Linked DNA regions of Homo sapiens. The protein of the gene in region 2 interacts with the protein of the main gene of each other region in a pairwise test. Each region holds a gene or a part of one and is shown on either strand. Other genes may lie near its edges.

Region 1 (3,916 bases), on a different chromosome or scaffold from region 2:
ACCGTCCAAACAGCTGCAATGCTACATAGGGGTAGCTGTGAGGCATGGTCACTTGCAAATCAATTTTCACCTTAAAATGAAAATCAAATAGATTTAAATACCATAACATCACATAAGCTAGTTTATCAATAGCAACTGCATGATTTTGAGAAATGTTATTGCTACTATTAAATGTACCAGGTACTTTACATACATGATTGCTTCCTTTTATGCATTATTTCAATATTTATTGAACAACTACGTGTGCCAGGTGCCCTTGTGCTGGGATAAAAAAGTGAATAAACCAGACACTATTTTTGCCCTTCATGAAGTCCAGGGCCTAGTGAAGGAGACACACATTAAACAAATAATTACATATAGCAAGTATTTAATTTCAATTGTGAAAAGCATTACCATGGAAAAGTGGAGGGTTCCATTGAAGTGTGTAACCAGCGGGACAGAATCCAGTCTGGAGAACCAGAAAGTCTCCTCTGAGGGAATAACAACTGAAGGATGAGTAGGAAATAGCTACAACAGTGGTTCTCAAATGCCCAGTCCACGTATTACCTATGCTATGCTAATGTTGCTGGAGATAAATGGATCAGAAGATGGAGGTAAATTCATTTTTAGTCTTTAGATTTTTCCATCCATATTTGCTTTCTGTGTTATGGTGCCATCAAAAAATCCACTCATTCACTCCTTAAAAGACAGTTATGTTACAGGAGATATTTAGATTTATGAAAATCATGATACATGTGAAAGGTAGTCCAACTGGATGGGTGAACAAAATAATAATGGCATAAGACTGCAAGATAGCGTCAATAAAAACTCCAGGTATATTTGTTAAAAAGGTGTATATGTTTACATAAAATTAAAGATATTTACTGAAGACAATTTATAGAGCATTCCGTATCTTTCAAACAAGGAAATATGCACCTGGAATATTTCTATCTTTCCTTGACAGAAAGCTCATGTTCTAGATGTTTCAATTAAAAACTGGGCACCTGGCAAACACTTAAATCAGGGTACCTACCTTGGGCTCTTCAATCTGGAGTGTAATTACAAATTCGATTTTTGGTGGCAGCGCCTCCCTTGTGCCTTCCAAATACCTCTTTATATTCGTCAGGGCATTTACATCTTCAAGTTTTACTTCTCCTTGGTTAGGAAACATAGAAAACAGCATTTCCATCTCCAGTAGCTGAAGCTGAAGGCTTTCTTTCACCGAAGCAGACATGTTGCCTCGCAATCAGCCTGCCTGGAAACCTCACAAGGCTCAGGGACGCTGGGTTTGTCAATGCCAGCCGGTATCCAGCGAAATTTCCCGAAGGTCCCTTTACGTGGAAGCAATTCTGCAGGAACGCTTTGCACCGAGAGCTAGGGGCACAAACCAGACACTTGCACTCTTCTTTATTTCCTGACTCCAAAATCTAGTATGCACAACATCCTCTAAAACACTCCGTAAAAACCCATATTCTGCGTACCCGGGCTCCGGGTTCCCGCCTCCCGCACCCCGCACTAGATAGGGGAATCTGCACTTTCAACAGGTGTTTGGAACTGTCCCGCTGCAGGTGGCAGGCAGACACCTGCAGACGCTCTGCAAGCCTGAATTCTGGGAAAGGCTGGGGCCCGGCTTCCAATCCCACCCGGGGCTCGGGCTTGGGCGGAGCCAGACGCTGCGGCGAGAGAGGCCGCAGTGCCAGCAGGATGGGCTCCGAGTTCCCCAGCGCCAGTCGCCACCCCTCGGTCCTGGACTCGCGGACCGCCCCCCCCCAACACCGCGGTGGCCTTTTCGCTTGGGCCGCATTCCAGGGCTCCGGACGTTTACGATTCACTGGCCTCTGCCCCGAGGGACCCAGGATAAGGGTAGGGGGTGTCTCAGAGGTCATTAAATAAAAGATGTTTACAGTGAGCTGGGGGAAGGGGGTACCCGGGGAGACGGCAGCCGGAGAAGGCTTCCCAGATTCAAAGGTTTGGGAGATGACCTCGACGTCGGAGAGGGGGATGCGGGCCGCCGGCGGCGCTCACTGTGGGCGAGGTCGCCCTGTCCGAGGCCCAGCGACGGGGCTGATTCCCCACCCCCGCCCCTAGCCAAGACCACTAGGAACCCCGGCTTCCCAGGAACGCAGGGCCTGCCGCCCCCAGAGGCCCGGATTTGGAGGCGGAGGCTGTGCCTCCGCGGCCGCAGTGCTCTGAGGGCCCGCGACCCTCGGCCCCAACCCCCGGGCCACCGCGGGGGCCTCACCCTTTCTGGTCACTCAATGGTAACAGCCCCAGACCCCGCTCGGAACCGCAGCCGCAGTTCCTCAGGCGCCAGCTGCGCGCGACCTGCGGCGAGGCGGGGGCGGGGCTGGCGGATAGTCCTCTGCCGTGATTGGCCAGGGGGCGTGGCGACGAGCCGGAAGCCACGCAGGGCCACGTCTGCGGTTCTGAGGACTGGGTTTGGGTGCAGACGTTGTTGCTTGGGCGCTTCTCCGCTGCGTGTAGGTGAAGGGGGCTTCCTGACCGAGGTAAGCCGGGCCCCGAGGCTCGGAGTTGAGAAGGGAGACTACCGGTCGGCAAGGGCTCGGTGGGAGCGGGACAGGTCAGATTCTCGGCCCGACGGAGGGGCTAGTGGTCTGGCGGGCGACTGACCGAGCGGCGGAGCGCGCGGGACACACCTACAGGCCCCTGCGCCCCGCGGGCGGGCTGGTCGGGACGGGCCGCGGGTCTCCTGCCGGGGCTCTGGTACGTGGACCTAGGCGGGGACCTCAGGGTGGAGTGCCGGGAATCACCCTTGTGCGGTGATTCGAGGGTAGGCGGGAGAGAGGCACCAAGGAGATTTGAAGATTGAATGGAGAGTAGGGGGATACTCTTAACTTTTTGCGTGGACGCTGGATTTGGCAAATATGCTTTCAATAAAGGCATTCGCAGAGGCATTGAAAGTAGTTGTAGGGCCTAAAACGCATGAAAGGATGAACTCATATTATCTGGACCTTTTTTTTTTTAATGGCTTTTTGGAGTTAACAGGACTGGTTTACACTCTTATGAATAATCATGACACATAACTGACTGCTCAGTTTTTACAAATATGTATTCATCCTTAGGAAAGAGATCTGATCACTGTCTTGAACTAAATTAGTTTACTGAATGCCAGCTTTTTCCAACTGGACAAAAGCAAGTATTTTTCACCATTTCTTGCAAGTTCTGTTCATTGAAGCAATGAAGGACAATAAAGAAAACAAAATTATGAGGCTAGCAGCTGGCGGACTGCTCCTCATCTCTGGGCTAATTGGGAATTAATTGACCCAGGAAATGTAGTATATGGACTACTGAAGGAAAACTACTGACTGAGGTTGGAAACCCCAAGTTCCACTTAATGGGAGTATCCCAGAGAAAACAGTATTAGTGGGCTAAGGGCCGATTTTTTGTTGTTGTTTGTTTTGAGACGGAGTCTCACCCTGTCGCCCAGCCTGGAGTGCAGTGGCGCGATCTCGGCTCACTGCGACCTCCACCCGCGGGTTCAAGCGATTCTCCTGCGTCAGCCTCCTGAGTAGCTGGGACTACAGGCGCGCACCACCACGCCAGGCTACTTTTTGTATTTTTAGTAGAGACAAGGGTCTCACCATGTTGGTCAGGCTGGTCTTGAATTCCTGACCTCGTGATCCGCCCGCCTTGGCCTCCCAAAATGCCGGGATTACAGGCCTGAGCCACCTCACCTGGCCTGTTTTTTTTTTTTTTTTTTTTTTTTGAGACCGAGTCTCCCTTTGTCACCCAGGCTGGAGTGCAGTGGCGCGATCTCGGCTCACTGCAACCTCTGCCTCCCGAGTAGCTGGGATTACAGGCGCCAGCTAACACGCCCGACTAATTTTTTTGTATTTTTAATAGAGAGGCGGTTTCGCCATGTTGGCCAGGCTGGTTTCAAACTCCTGACCTCAGGTGATCCGCCTGCCTTGGCCTC
Region 2 (3,916 bases):
GGGAGACACTGATGAACAACTGCCTACAAAAGCTTTGTTTAAATACTCATCTCCTACTAGCAAACTCACCCTTCTGGATGCTGCAAAACAGATACCATCAATTCCACGGCCAGGGCTCCTGCAATCACGGCCAGTCCTGGACGACTCACAGTGCACTGCTGGTCCAAGGTCCGGTCTCTGGTTGACTGCAAAGAAACAATCATTGGTGTGTGCAGAACGTTCTACTCCATTCAACTCTAGCTGTCTCAAGTATGAAATCCTCTGTGACAAAGCTTTAAATTATAACCAGATGCTCATTGTTGGCAAAGAACATCCAGCCTCAAGTACATCATTTCTTGAGATTATCAAGATAAACAAAATATACAATTTAGGTAACTAAATGAGGTGATATGCTAAAAAGGATCAGTAGCCTAAACAGATTGGGGGATATTAACCAAAAATGAGGGCTTAGCTGCCTCATATAATGGAACTGCATCATGTGTTCCTTTAAGTGACTCAATTCAGTTCTACTGTGCTTGGTAGTTAAGTGACAGAGACACAGAAAGGAACAATGATTTGAAAAGTGCAAATGATTCTGCCCTGCCATTTTAACTGAGCTAACACCTCAAAGTGACCGTGAGATGGGAGCAACAATTTACTATTCCTGCGGCCCTCAGTTCCTATGTGCCTCTCACAACATGGGCATCACCTCTCTGTGTGATTCTAGGGTTTACTACAAGTATTTTTTTTTTCTACAACATGGCTCTAAGCACAAGCCTTTGCTGGTTCAACCAAAGAGAGTCTAACCATCCAACTCTGGGCAAATTAAGAGGTTGTTAGAGATATTTTTGACTCTATAAAAATTTTACCTTATGAGCAGATGGGACTTTACTGCAAGGGACCACTAATCGTATTTGTTGACAATCACTAAATAACAAGACCAGCTATATATTATAACACCATAACAGAGATCATCAAGCCATCTTTCTCCATAAAAGAGAATGGTCATCTTCTTTTCTTTATATTGGGAGGGCATAAAAGCCAGTCATCCAAAAGAGATATGAGTTATTAAGGGAAAAGTTTTAAAACAAAGGAAAAATAGAGGGGAGGTTACAGAAAACATCTCTGCATTGTTTCACTGGAAATCGTTATCTGTTCTGATAAAGGAACAGACCTACATACAGACTGACTTGTGTGGAGTTCTGAAAGTCATAGAATCTTAATTTGTACAGTGTAGTCTTGCTGTTCAAAGCACTGTCGCACTTGACCCACTTTGCACTGTGAGTTGACAGGGCAGGTATTCTTCCCTCCTCTATTAGCATTGCTAGGGAGAATACAAGACACTCAGTTAAATTTGAATTTCAGATAAATAAATTTTTAGTATAAGTGGGTCTTGAATATTGCATGGGACATATACCAAAAAATTATTCATTATTGGCTAAGCGTGGTGGCTCACACCTGTAATCCCAGCACTTTGGGAGACTGAGGCAGGTGGATCACGAGGTCAGGAGTTCGAGACCAGCCAGACCAACATGGTGAAACCCCGTCTCTACTAAAAATACAAAAATTAGCTGGGCATGGTGGCACACACCTGTAATCTCAGCTACTCAGGAGGCTGAGGCAGGAGAATCACTTGAACCCAGGAGGCAGAGGTTGCAGGGAGCCGAGATTGTGCCACTGCACTCGAGCCTGGGTGACAGGGCGAAACTCTGTCTCAAAAAAAAAAAAAAAAGAATTCATTATTAACTGAAATTCAAAGTTAGCTGGGAATCCTATATTTTTACTTACTAAATCTGACAAGCCTACACATCACTCCTATTTTGCAAAGGTAGAGGGAACCTAAGAGACTTTTTAGAACTACCTGGGAGGCAGTGTCAAGCCATTGATGGAATCTGGTCTTTAGACTCCTGATTTGTAATGTTATCTTGACTAAGAGAAGCACCGGAGACAATACGGAGTGCTATCAGGGACTAGTCTGCTGTGGTTTCCTCAATAAGCTTTCCAAAAATATGGTTTGTAGCCGCGTTTATATTGGTGAACAAGGAACAGGTGTACAGTTGATGACGCCAGTCAAGGTTCATAATGAGATAATGCCATCCTCCCCAAATTGGAGAATTCTTCTCTTTGTTAAAAGATAATATTTAAATAGTCATAAATGAAAGGGCCAAGTCGGTCTGCCTCAGTGTACAAGTTGGTGATAGGAAATATTTGGAACTATAGAGAAATCCACTTACATCTCCTGGGGCCACCACATCATTGCAGAAGTAGCAGCCAAGCTTGTAACCAGGGATGTTGGCAAAAAGCGATGAGCCCAGGAGGTCAGCAGATGCCACAGGGTGGTTTGGACACAAGTCCCCAGCTCCTTGCTGCTTTGGTTTCTTCAGACCATGTCTCATGACAACAAATGTGTCAAATCCCAAAGCAGCATTGATGACCAGCTGCAGGTTTCAAGGAATGAAAGAGCAGAGTTAAAAGACACATATATTTCAAGCTGTGGCTAATTCCATATTTGCTCAACTTTTTAAAATTTATTTTTTGCATGTAAGTGTAATTAGATTATAAAAGCTAATGATGATAAAATCTACCCACTACTGAGGGCTTATTAATTACAAAAGACTTGATAAGTGATGAACATAAATTATCTCATTTAATTTCATTTGAAACTCATAACAGACCAGGTATAGTGGCTCATAACCTGTAATCCCAGCACTTTGGGAGGCCAAGGCGGGCAGACTGTCTGAGGTCAGGAGTTCGAGACCAGCCTGGCAACATGACGAAACCCTGTCTCTATTAAAAATACAAAAAATTAGCCGAGCATGATGGCTTGCGCCAGTAGTCGCAGCTACTCAGGAGGCAGAGGCATGAGAAATGCTTGAACCTGGGAGATGGAGTTTGCAGTGAGCCGAGATTCCGCCACTGCACTCCAGCCTGGGTGACAGAGCAAGATTCTATCTCTGAAAAAGAAAAAAGCAAACAAAAAAACTCATAACAAACATTTCTTATTTATAGATGAGGATACTGAAAGTCAGAGAAGTTAGTTCTATAACTTGCCCAAGGTCACTTATCTGGCAAGAGGTAGGTATATAAAACCAAGTCTACATAGTTCTCAAACACATTCTTTCCACCATTATGCTATACTGTCATGTTCACATAGATTTGTTTTTATAACAGCTTTATTGAGATATAACTCACATACCATATAATTCACCCTTCACATAGAATTTTTTTGGTATCCCAGTAGCTGGAATTACAGGCACATGCCACCATGCCTGGCTCCGCATAGTTGGTTTTTTTTTGTTTTTTTGTTTCTTTGGGGTTTTTTTGAGACAGGATCTCACTCCGTTGCCCAGGCTGGAATGCAATGGCGTGATCTCGGTTCACTGCAGCCTCAACCTCCCAGGCTCAAGTGATCTTCCTGCCTCACCCTCCTGAGTAGCTGGGAGCACGGGTGTGCATCACCACACCTAGCTAATTTTTTGTTTTTCTTCTAGAGAGAGAGTCTCACCATGTTGCCCAGGCTAGTCTCAAACTCCTGGGTCAAGCAATCCTCCCAAAGTGCTAGGATACAGATGTGAGCCACCATGTCCAGCCCAACACATAAATTTTTAAGAAACCGTTTTTTCATTATACTATAACAACTTTTCATAGTTCTAATTTAACTTATTATCCCAAATATCTGATTATATAGAAAGTTTGAAAAATAAGAATAAACACACTACAAAAGAAAACAAAAATCACTCACAACCCGCAGCTCAAAAAATTACTATTAATAGTTTGGTGTATTTTTTACCTACTATTTTCTCCCTTTCTCTCCCATACTCTCCCTCTCTTTCTCCCTTCTTCTTGTCCTCTTTCTCCTCTCTCAATAGACAGATAAGTAGATACTTAAGAAAATACATATCAATGTTTATATATAAACATAATTGGTATAAAATAT

What was found.
Region 1: the proteins of ATG7 (region 2) and RWDD2A interact in binary tests that used the Homo sapiens proteins (3 or more experiments, as listed by UniProt).

Annotation. Positions count from the first base shown.
Region 1 is NC_000006.12:83,191,749-83,195,664, reverse strand, and holds the start of RWDD2A (RWD domain-containing protein 2A), read right to left. Parts: upstream 2,309-3,916; 5' UTR 2,222-2,308; exon of another isoform or gene 1,354-2,221; 5' UTR 1,214-1,353; coding exon 1,013-1,213; exon of another isoform or gene 397-1,012; coding exon of another isoform or gene 394-396; intron 71-393; coding exon 1-70.
Region 2 is NC_000003.12:11,359,082-11,362,997, reverse strand, and holds part of ATG7 (ubiquitin-like modifier-activating enzyme ATG7), read right to left. Parts: intron 2,418-3,916; coding exon 2,214-2,417; intron 186-2,213; coding exon 70-185; intron 1-69. UniProt on the Homo sapiens protein: E1-like activating enzyme involved in the 2 ubiquitin-like systems required for cytoplasm to vacuole transport (Cvt) and autophagy.